2 separate regions of the Homo sapiens genome follow, and region 2 is linked to region 1. The links come from fine-mapping of genetic effects on gene expression. Tissue or cell type: whole blood. Region 1 holds a variant in brackets; the other region holds the start of a gene. All regions are shown on one strand. Distances are from middle to middle.

Region 1 (5,145 bases):
GTTCGAGACAGAGTATCACTCTGTTGCCCAGGCAGGAGTGCAGCGGCATGGTCTCGGCTCACTGCAACCTCCGCCTCCTGGGTTCAAGCGATTCTCCTGCCTCAGCCTCTTGAGTAGCTGGGATTAGTCAGGCCCGCCACCAGGCCTGACTAATTTTTTTTGTATTTTTAGTAGAGATGGGTTTTCACCATGTTGGCCAGGCTGGTCTCAAACTCCTGACTTCAAGAGATCTGCCTGCCTTGGCCTCCCAAAGTGCTGGGATTACAGGCGTGAGCCACCGCGCCTGGCCAATGCCACTGTTTTTGAGGTGGGAGGCTGGACTCACCTCCAGAGGTGGGACTTGGGTATGGGACCAAATTGAGGACTAGCTAAGCAGTTTCCCATAATACACGCCCACCAGTATGCCACGTCAGTTTACCGTTGCCATGGCAACACCTGGGAGTTACTGCCCCTTTCCATGCCAATAACCCCACAAGCCAAAAGTCATTACCCCTTCCCTAGAAATTTCTGCATAAACCGCGCCTTAATCTACATGTAATTAAAAGTAAGTATCGGGCTGAGCACACTGGCTCACGCCTGTAATCCCAGCATTTTGGGAGGCCAAAGCTGGCGGATCATCTGAGTGAAGAGTTTGAGACTAGCTTGGCCGACATTGTGAAACCCCATCTCTACTAACAATACAATAATTAGCCAGGCGTGGTGACGCCCGCCTGTAATCCCAGCTACTCAGGAGGCTGAAGTAGGAGAATTACTTGAACCCAGGAGGCGGAGGTTGCAGTGAGCCGAGATGGCGCCACTGACAGCACTCCAGCCTGGGTGATAGAGAGAGACTGTTGTCTAAAAAAAAAAAAAAAAAAAAAAAAAAAAAGGAGTCTATTTACAAGGGTGGAGGCAGTGGGTAGAAAGATACAGGCAGCCCAAGGCAACCGTACATCAAGAAGGGAGTTGGGGAAATAAATACCCACCCTCCAGTTTCTTGCCAGTGTCTCCCCATTGGGCAAACCGATGCAGAAAGCTAGAGGTTCAGAAAGCTCATTGTGGTTCATGCTGATCCCAAGGTATGGTCAGACTCCCAGGAGTATGGCGGGGAGAGGTGGAGAGTGGACCTGAAGAGGCAAACAAAAAATATCCAGCATAGTCCGGGCACAGCAGCTCACACCTGTAATTCCAGCACTTTGGGAAGCTGAGGTGTGAAGATCACTTGAGGCCAAGAGTTCGAGACCAGCCTGGACAACATAATGAGACTCATCTCTACAAAAAAAAAATTTTTTTTTAATTAGCCTGGCATGGTGGCATGCACCTGTAATTCCAGTTATTTCCAAGGCTGAGGAGGGAGGATGGCTTGAGCCTAGGAGTTTGAGGCTGCAGTGAGCTATGATTGTACCACTGCACTACAGCCTGGGCAACAGAGTGAGACCCTGTCTCAAAAAAAAAAGGGAAGAAAAGAAAAAAGAAAAACATCCAGCATAGTGTTCTATTTGTATTGTTATTGTATTTCTTATTGTGGCCTATGAGGCCCTTCAAGGTTTAGGCCTAACCTCTGCCTCCTCTTCCCACCCCACCCACTACATTCCTCTCTGAAACCCAGGGACTGACTGGGAAGGGATGGGAGACAACCTTCTGGAGTGATGGTGATGTTCTGATTCAAGATAAGGATTTTGGCGGCACGGGCCTGCACATTTGTCAGAATTCCTCTAACAATGTGCTTAAGTTTTGTGCATTTCAGCATATGTAAATTTTACCTGAAGAGGAGAAACTAAATAAATATGCTTTTCAACTTACTTTGAAATGCATTGAAAAGGCAAGAAGGAGTGATGGATAGATGGATGGAAAGGTGGGTAAATACTTGATAAAGCAAGTTGAGTAAGATGTTAATTAATTTAGAATCTAGGTGATGGGGCCAGGCACGGTGGCTCATGCCTGTAATCCCAGCACTTTGGGAGGCCAAGGCAGGCAGATGGCTTGAGTACAGGAGTTCGAGACCAGCCTGGGCAACAGGGCGAAATCCTATCTATCTCTACAAAAAAAAAATTAGCCAGGCGTGGTGGCACATGCCCCTAGTCCCAACTACTCAGGAGGCTGAGGTGGGAGGATCACCTGAGCCACAGAAGTCGAGGCTGAAGTGAGCCAAGATTGCACCACTACACTCCAGGCTGGGCTATGGGAGTGAGACCCTGTGTCCAAAGATAAAATAAAAATAGAGCTGGGCACGGTGGCTCACCCCTGTAATCCCAGCATTTTGGGAGGCCAAGGCGGATGAATCACTTGAGGCCAGGAGTTCAAGACCAGCCTGCCCAACATGGTGAAACCCCATCTCTACTAAAAATACAAAAATTAGCCAGGCGTGGTGGTGGGCACCTGTAATCCCAGCTACTCAGGAGGCTGAGGCAGGAGAATCGCTTGAACCTGGGAGGTGAAGGTTGCAGTGAGCCCAGATCACACCACTGCACTCCAGCCTGGGTGACAAAGTGAGACTCTGTCTCAAAAATAATAATAATAATCATACAAATAGAATCTAGGTGATGGGTATATATGAGTGTTCACTGTAAGATTATTTTAACTTCTCTATGTTTTAAATAATTCATTTTAAACATCTGTGCAAAAGTAAAAATAAAAATTTGGGAAAGTGTTGAGTCAGCAAAGGAATTTGGATTGGATTGATTGGTTGGAGGAACCAAGAAGAAATGAATTGCTCTGGGACTTTCCACAGAAACCACAACCGCTTCCCTGCAGCATAGAGCTGGCCTCCAGGAACAAACTGTGCCAGCTCTCAAGTCTCAGTTCTCCAGAAAGCCTGTCAGGAAAAAAGTGCAGAGAAGAGAAAGAGACAGCACCCTTGCTTCTCAGAAATCCTGTGATGAACAGATCTGCCTAACATCTGAAGTCATGCACTATTCATTCGACAAACTATAATTGAAACCCTCCTCTGTGCCCAGCCCTGAGATGTGTGTGTGGCACTGACAACATAGCCCCAGCCCTTCCCTCAGGAGACTCAAAGTCCAGGGGCAGAGACAGACACATCTTCCAGTGTTATGGTTTGGCTCCATGTCCCCACCCAAATCTCATCTCAAATTGTAATCCCCATGTGTGAGGGAATGACCTGGTGGGAGGTGATTGGATCATGGGGACGGTTTCTCACATGCTGTTTTTGTGCTGATGAGGGAGGTTTCACGAGATCTGTTGGTTTAAAAGTGGCAATTTCCGGCCGGGCGCGGTGGCTCACGCCTGTAATCCCAGCACTTTGGGAGGCC[G/A]AGGCGGGCGGATCACGAGGTCAGGAGATCGAGACCATCCCGGCTAAAACGGTGAAACCCCGTCTCTACTAAAAATACAAAAAATTAGCCGGGCGTAGTGGCGGGCGCCTGTAGTCCCAGCTACTTGGGAGGCTGAGGCAGGAGAATGGCGTGAATCCGGGAGGCGGAGCTTGCAGTGAGCCGAGATCCCGCCACTGCACTCCAGCCTGGGCGACAGAGCGAGACTCTGTCTCAAAAAAAAAAAAAAAAAAAAAAAAAAGTGGCAATTTCCTTTGCTCTCTCTCTCTCTCTCTCTGTCTCTCTCTCTCTTTCTCTGCTGCCGCCATGTAAGACATGCCTTACTTCCCATTGACCTTCTGCCATAATTGTAAGTTTCCTGAGTCCTCCTCAGCCATGCAGAATTGTGAGTCAATTAAACCTCTTTTCAGTCCAGGCGCAGTGGCTCAAACCTGTACTCCCAGCACTTTGGGAGGCCAAAGCAGGCAGATCATCTGAGGTCAGGAGTTCAAGACCATCCTGGCCAACATGGTGAAACCCCATCTCTCCTGAAAATGCAAAAATTAGCCAGGTATGGTGGCGGACACCTGTAACCTCAGCTACTTGGGAGGCTGAGGCAGGAGAATTGCTTGAACCCGGGAGGTGGAGGTTACACTGAGCCAACTTCTCTCTACTGCACTCTAGCCTGGACAACAGAGTAAGACCTTATATTAAAAAAAATAATAATAAATAAAGGCCAGGCATGATGGCTCATGTCTGTAATCCCAGCATTTTGGGAGGCCGAGCCAGGCAGATCATGAGGTCAGGAGTTCAAGATCAGCCTGACCAACATGGTGAAACCCTGTCTCTACTAAAAAATACAGAAATTAGCTGGGCATGGTGGCACACGCCTGTAATCCCAGCTACTCAGGAGGCTGAGGCAGGAGAATCACTTGAATCCGGGAGGCGGAGGTTTCAATGAGCCGAGATTGTGCCACTGCACTCCAGCCTGGGCAACAGAGCAAGACTGTGTCTCAAAAAAAATAATAAATTAAAAAAATAAAAACCTCTTTTCTTTATCAATTACCCAGCCTCAGGTAGAATCTTTATAGCAATGTGAGACCAGACCAATACATCCAGATAGCAACAATCCCAAGTGATCAAAACAATAATGGGGGAAGCCCCAAATGAGGCATGTGACCCAGACTGGTGGTCAGGAAAGATACCTGATGGAGAGGACATCCAAGCTAAGTCTTAAAGAAAGAGTAGGTGTCACCAGGTAGAGACGGAAGGACAATGGAAAAGCATTCCAGGCAGAAGGAACAGCAACTGCAAAGGTCTGGGAGTGAGCAGAAGAGTTTGATGCTCAAACTTTTCTGAACTGAACTTTTCTGAACTGAAAAGTTCAGTGTCATTGGAATGTGAAAGGAAGCAGAGGGTAGGGAGGGGTTAAAGGCAAGCATGCAGCAGTCACCAGTTCCTGTGTGGGCTTGTAAGCCATGGTAGGGCATTGGAATCTTACCCTGCGAGTGCTGGGGAGTCACAACAGGGTTATAGTCAGTAGGAGGACTTCACCAGTTTGTAAATGATTCCAATTGCAAAACAAGGGAAGGAGATGAGGGAATGTATCGGTCAGGATTGGCTAAGTTATGCTGCAGTGACAAACAGCTCCAGAATTCAGTGACTCAAAACAACAAAGGTTGGCTGGGTGCAGTGGCTTACGTCTGGAATCCCAGAACTTTCAGAGGCCAAGGAGGGAGAAGTGCTTGAGGCCAGGAGTTCAAGACCAGCCTGAGCAACATAGTGAGATTCCATCTCTTCAAAAAAAACTTTTAAAAATTACCTGGGCACGGTGTGCACACCTGTAGTCCCATCTACTCAGAAGCCTGAGACAGGAGGATCTCTTGAGCCCAGGAGT
Region 2 (5,145 bases), 36 kb before region 1:
TGCACTGCTATAAAGAAATACCTGAGACTAGAAGTAATTTATAAGAAAAGAGGTTTGATTGGCTCAAGGTTCTGCAGCTGTACAGGAAGCGTGGTGCCAGCATCTCCTTCTGGGGAGGCCTCAGAGAGCTTTTACTTATGGCAAAAGGATGCAGGCCAGAGAAGGGGAGCGAGAGAGAGTAAGAAGGGGAGGTGCCACACACTTAAACAACCAGATCTGGCAAGGACTCACTCATCATTGCAAGGACAGCACCAAGTCATGAAGGATCTGCCCCCATAACCCAAACACCTTCCACCAGGTCGCATCTCCAACACTGGGAATTACATTTCAACATGAGATTTGGGCGGGGGACAAATATCCAAACTATGTCACGGAGCAAGAGGAGGTCCCTGGAGCTGTTGAAGCAGAAATGGGGTGAAGAATAGAGGTGGAGGGTGCTTAGGCTTCCAAGGTCTCTTCTAGGTGTGAGATGGAGGGATTCTGCGACCAAGTCACCTGGAGAGTGACTCAACAAGGTGACTGCTTTCCCAAGCACGAGCCCTCGGGGGACAGACGGGGGCTGAAAACTGGCACACATTCTTCCTGGATCCTTTGACATGTGATCATTCAAAGATAACAGTTCAAAGATAACAAAGGGATTGAAGCTTTACCAATCCCTTTCTTATTGTGGCATTTTCTCTATTAAAAATAAATACTCATTTATACTATAACTTACAGAATCAGTACCAATTCTGAAAGTATACAAAGCGTTGCCTTACTTTAAGGAAGGAGACCACTACTACTCCTGCTGCCCTCCTCCCCCGACCTTGCCTAGTTCACAAGACAGGAGGAAAGAGAGAAAGCAAAAAGTTGGAAAGAAACAGAAGTAAGATAAATAGCCAGTCAACCTTGGCACCACCACCCAGCCCTAGGAGTTAAAAAAAGTAATAATAATAACAGCAACCCCTGACCTAAACTACTTGTGTTATCTGTAAGTTCCAGACATTATATGAAAAAGCATTGCAAAACTTTCTGTTCTGTTACCTGATGCATGTAGCCCCCAGTCACGTTTCCCACGCTTGCTCGATTTATCACGACCCTTTCATGTGGACCCCTCGAAGTTGTAAGCCTTTAAAAAGGCCAAGAATTGGCCAGGCGTGGTGGCTCATGCCTGTAATCCCAGCACTTTGGGGGGCGGGCGGATCACGAGGTCAGGAGATCGAGACCATCCTGGCTAACACAGTGAAACCCCATCTCTACTAAAAATACAAAAAAATTAGCCGGGTGTGGTGGTGGGTGACTGTAGTCCCAGCTACTCGGGAGGCGGAGGCAGGAGAATGGCATGAAGTCGGGAGGCAGAGCTTGCAGTGAGCCGAGATTGCACCACTGCACTCCAGCCTGGGCAACAGAGGGAGACTCCAAAAAAAAAAAAAAAGGCCAAGAATTTATTTTTCAGGGAGCTCGGCTCTTAAGACGCAAGTCTGCTGAGGCTCCCGGCCAAATAAACCTCTTCCTTCTTTAATCCAGTATCTGAGGAGTTTTGTCTGCAGCTCATCCTGCTACAACTTCATGTCACACCTGGAAAGCTTACATAGGCCAGGGGTGGTGGCTCACGTCTGTAATCCCAGTACTCTGGGAGGCCGAGGTGGGCAGATCACCTGAGGTTAGGAGTTCAAGACCAGCCTGGTCAACACGGCGAAACCCCGTCTCTACTAAAAATACAAAAATTAGCCAGGTGTGGTGGCAGGTGCCTGTAATCCTAGCTGCTCAGGGGAGACTGAGGCATGAGAATCGCTTGAACCTGGGAGAGGGAGGTTGCAGTGAGCTGAGATCACGTCACTGCACTCCAGCCTGGGGGATAGAGAGAGGCTCTGTCTCCAAAAAAAAAATACAAAAAATTAGCCAGGCATGGTAGCTTATGCCTGTAATCCCAGCTACCTGGGAGGCTGTGGTAGGAGAATCACTTGAACCCAGGAGGAGGAGGTTGCAGGGAGCCAAGATTGTGCCATTGCACTCCAGCCTGGGCAAAAAGAGCAAAAGTCTGTCAAAAAGGGAAGGGAAGGGGAGGGGAAGGGAGGGGAGGGGAGGGAAGGGAAGGTTACATAGATGTGAAAGTGAACTGCCAGCCATGAGCAACAAATCCGAGTGACATGTCTTCTTCATGGTCCTGACACGGACGCGTGGGTTCGATCTGACAGCAGCCTGTGCCATCATAGCTACTGCTCATGCATGCATTCGGGGTGCCCAAAGTGATGCTGAGGGGGGCATTCCTAGATTCAACCCTCCAGGAGACCATGAGGAGGCTGGTGCGATAGCGCAATCAGATGAAGACGCCTGGGCTGCACAGGGGCCACTGCAAGTGAAGACTCAAGAGGCCAAGCTGACTCCCAGAGGCTAGGGCCACTAAGGTGGGTGCCGAGGCAGGGGCCAGGCTGGGAACATGAGAGGCCATTTGGGTAGGGAGATAAGTTCCGTGAGTGAGGGCCAAGGGTCTGACCTCCTAGTGTGGCTGGAGAAGCAGAGACAACAGAGTGCAAAAAGAGAAATGGGCCAGGCGAGGCCATCTGGCAACGCACTGCCCACCCTCCATTGCGTGCCTCTGGCTGCAAAAACAGGCAGGATCTTCCGGCCGGTTTGCCCGCCACTCACCTTCCGAGCATGCGCACCCTCCGAGATTGCCAGGAATTGACTTCTCTGTGGCCAATGAGGTGCCGCGTTCCTCCAGGCTCATCCAATGAACTTATCCGATGCTTTTGCATCCACCAATGGGGTTTCGAGTGCTGTGTGGCCAGGCTGGCCCGGCCTTGCGTCGTAAGAGAATGCCAAGCCCGGGGAGAAGGCGTTCCGGGCCTCAACTTTGGCGTCGTGAGATTCTTGTGAGGCGTCTGCCTGGAAGCCGGCAGCAATTTTGCTTCTTTAAAGAGAAAAAGAAGGCTAGGGACTCAGATTCCTGGATTCTGAGGAAAGAGAAGGCTGGGGACCCAGATCCTGGCTCTGAGGGGAACGAGGGTTGGGGGCCTGGGCTCCCGGGCCTGAGAGGGAGGGGACCAGAATGGTGTGTCCCGCAGGAAAAGGTGGTTGGAACCCAGACTCCTCGATCCCTACATAGGACGGGGCTGGGCTCTCAGAATCCCGGGTTCTGATGAGGCTGGGGCTGGGGCTGGGGGCCGAGATTCTGGGTCCCTGAGAGAATGTAAGGGACCCCTGAGACTGAGGGAGAAGCGGCCTTCAGGGCCACACTCCTGATCCTGAAGTTGGAGGGCACTGGGTGGCCGGGCCTGAGAATTAAAACCATGAAAAACTGGGGCGTGATAAACCTGTGAACTCGCTCCAGCTCACAAGCCGGTTAGGGACAGAACGACTTTAGAAGTCGTGGTCATATACACCATAAACCCCACTGTGAGGCCGGGCATCAGGGCTCACTCCTGGAATCCCAGCACTATGGGGGGACGAGGCGGGCAGATCACCTGAGATCAGGAGTTCGAGACCAGCCTGACCAACATGGTGAAACGTCATCTCTACTAAAAATACAAAAAATTCACTGGGTGTGGTGGCGGGCACCTGTAATCCCGGCTACTCGGGAGGCTGAGGCAGGAGAATTGCTTGAACCTGATAGGCAGAGGCAGTGAGCCGAGATTGCGCCACTGCACTCCAGCCTGGGCGACAGTGCAAGACTCCGTCTCAAAAAAAAAAAAAATGCAGATTAAAACACCCCACCCTGAAGTCAGTACTTGCCAGGACCTAGATTTGATCTCATGCACTCTGGCTGAAAAGTTAATTGCCTTCTCTCCATCAAATTCACAGATCCAGACCAGCTCCTCCCAGACCTCTCCAGAAGAAGCCATGGGAACCCCTCGTATCCAGCATTTGCTGATCCTCCTGGTCCTAGGAGCCTCCCTCCTGACCTGTGCGTATGGGGGACATAGGGGAGAGCCGTGTGTCACAGAAGGTGGACTGATGATGAAAAGGGAGCCGCCTTGGCCCATGGAGAAGTGCTTATCCTTTTCTTGTTTTCTCCTCAGCGGGCCTAGAGCTGTATTGTCAAAAGGGTCTGTCCATGACTGTGGAAGCAGATCCAGCCAATATGTTTAACTGGACCACAGAGGAAGTGGAGACTTGTGACAAAGGGGCACTTTGCCAGGAAACCATACTAATAATTAAAGCAGGTGAAATGAGATGGGGCATTTGGGCTGGGTAGGAGGGAGGTTGATTATCTCCATGCCAATGCTTGTTCCCTTCGTCCAGGCCAATTGTGACGGCCACCATCCATTTCCCCTCCTTCCTGTCTCATAACAGGGACTGAGACAGCCATTTTGGCCACGAAGGGCTGCATCCCGGAAGGGGAGGAGGCCATAACAATTGTCCAGCACTCTTCACCTCCCGGCCTGATCGTGACCTCCTACAGTAACTACTGTGAGGATTCCTTCTGTAATGACAAAGACAGCCTGTCTCAGTTTTGGGAGTTCAGTGAGACCACAGGTACCCTGGAAGTGGGGGAGATAGGTACTAAGAGAAACTCCATAAAGAGCTTGTGTATGGCCTCCCTTTGCATTCTGACTTGGCTTAGCCTAAGTGGTCCATACCCCAAAGTACCTCACAGTTCAAGTAATTTTATGTTTCTGAATTGTTCATTGGGATCTAAACACTGCTCAGAGCAGCGAGATACCAGTGAAGCCTGGAGTGTAAACTGGGTTTTGTGTTTATTAAGCAATAAGACAGGCTGGGTGAGGTGGATCGCCTGAGGTCAGGGGTTTGGGACCAGCTTGGCCAACATGGTGAAAACCTGTCTCTACTAAAAATACAAAAATTAGCTTAGCCTGGTGGCGCACACCTGTAATCCCAGATACTCGGGAAGCTGAGGCAGGAGAATTGCTTGAACCCAGGAGGCAGAGGTTGCAGTGAGCCAATATCACACCACTGCACTTCAGCCTGGGACAGAGAGCAAGACTCCATCAAAAAAAAAAAAAAAAAAAGCAATAAGACATCAGTGTAGGTTTCCGAACAGGGTGGTATTATCAGTCTAACAAGTATTGGTTTCCCACTGCTGCACGAGAACGGCCCAGTTCCCCAATTTACAAGGCCTGTAGTAACTTGGCCCTTCCTGTCTTTTCAGCTTCATTTCCCTCTCTTCCCTCTCTCATTTACTGTGTGCTAACTGGGGCTAAT

The links. PIP is the estimated chance that this variant, and not a neighbour inherited with it, causes the effect.
Region 2: TEX101 starts here. The variant in region 1 is fine-mapped to the expression of TEX101 in whole blood (TOPMed, PIP 0.97).

What each region holds. Positions count from the first base shown.
Region 1 is chr19:43,447,977-43,453,121 of GRCh38, forward strand. No RefSeq gene overlaps it. Among named protein-coding and RNA genes, the nearest start is that of LYPD3, 15 kb to the right of the region's middle. The variant G/A (reference allele first, on the strand shown) is at 3,252.
Region 2 is chr19:43,412,098-43,417,242 of GRCh38, forward strand. TEX101 (testis expressed 101) reads left to right here and starts at 2,793. Exons shown (of 6, transcript NM_001130011.3): 1 at 2,793-2,941; 2 at 3,784-3,886; 3 at 4,002-4,145; 4 at 4,276-4,458. The coding sequence starts at 3,823. RefSeq lists a silencer at 994-1,180.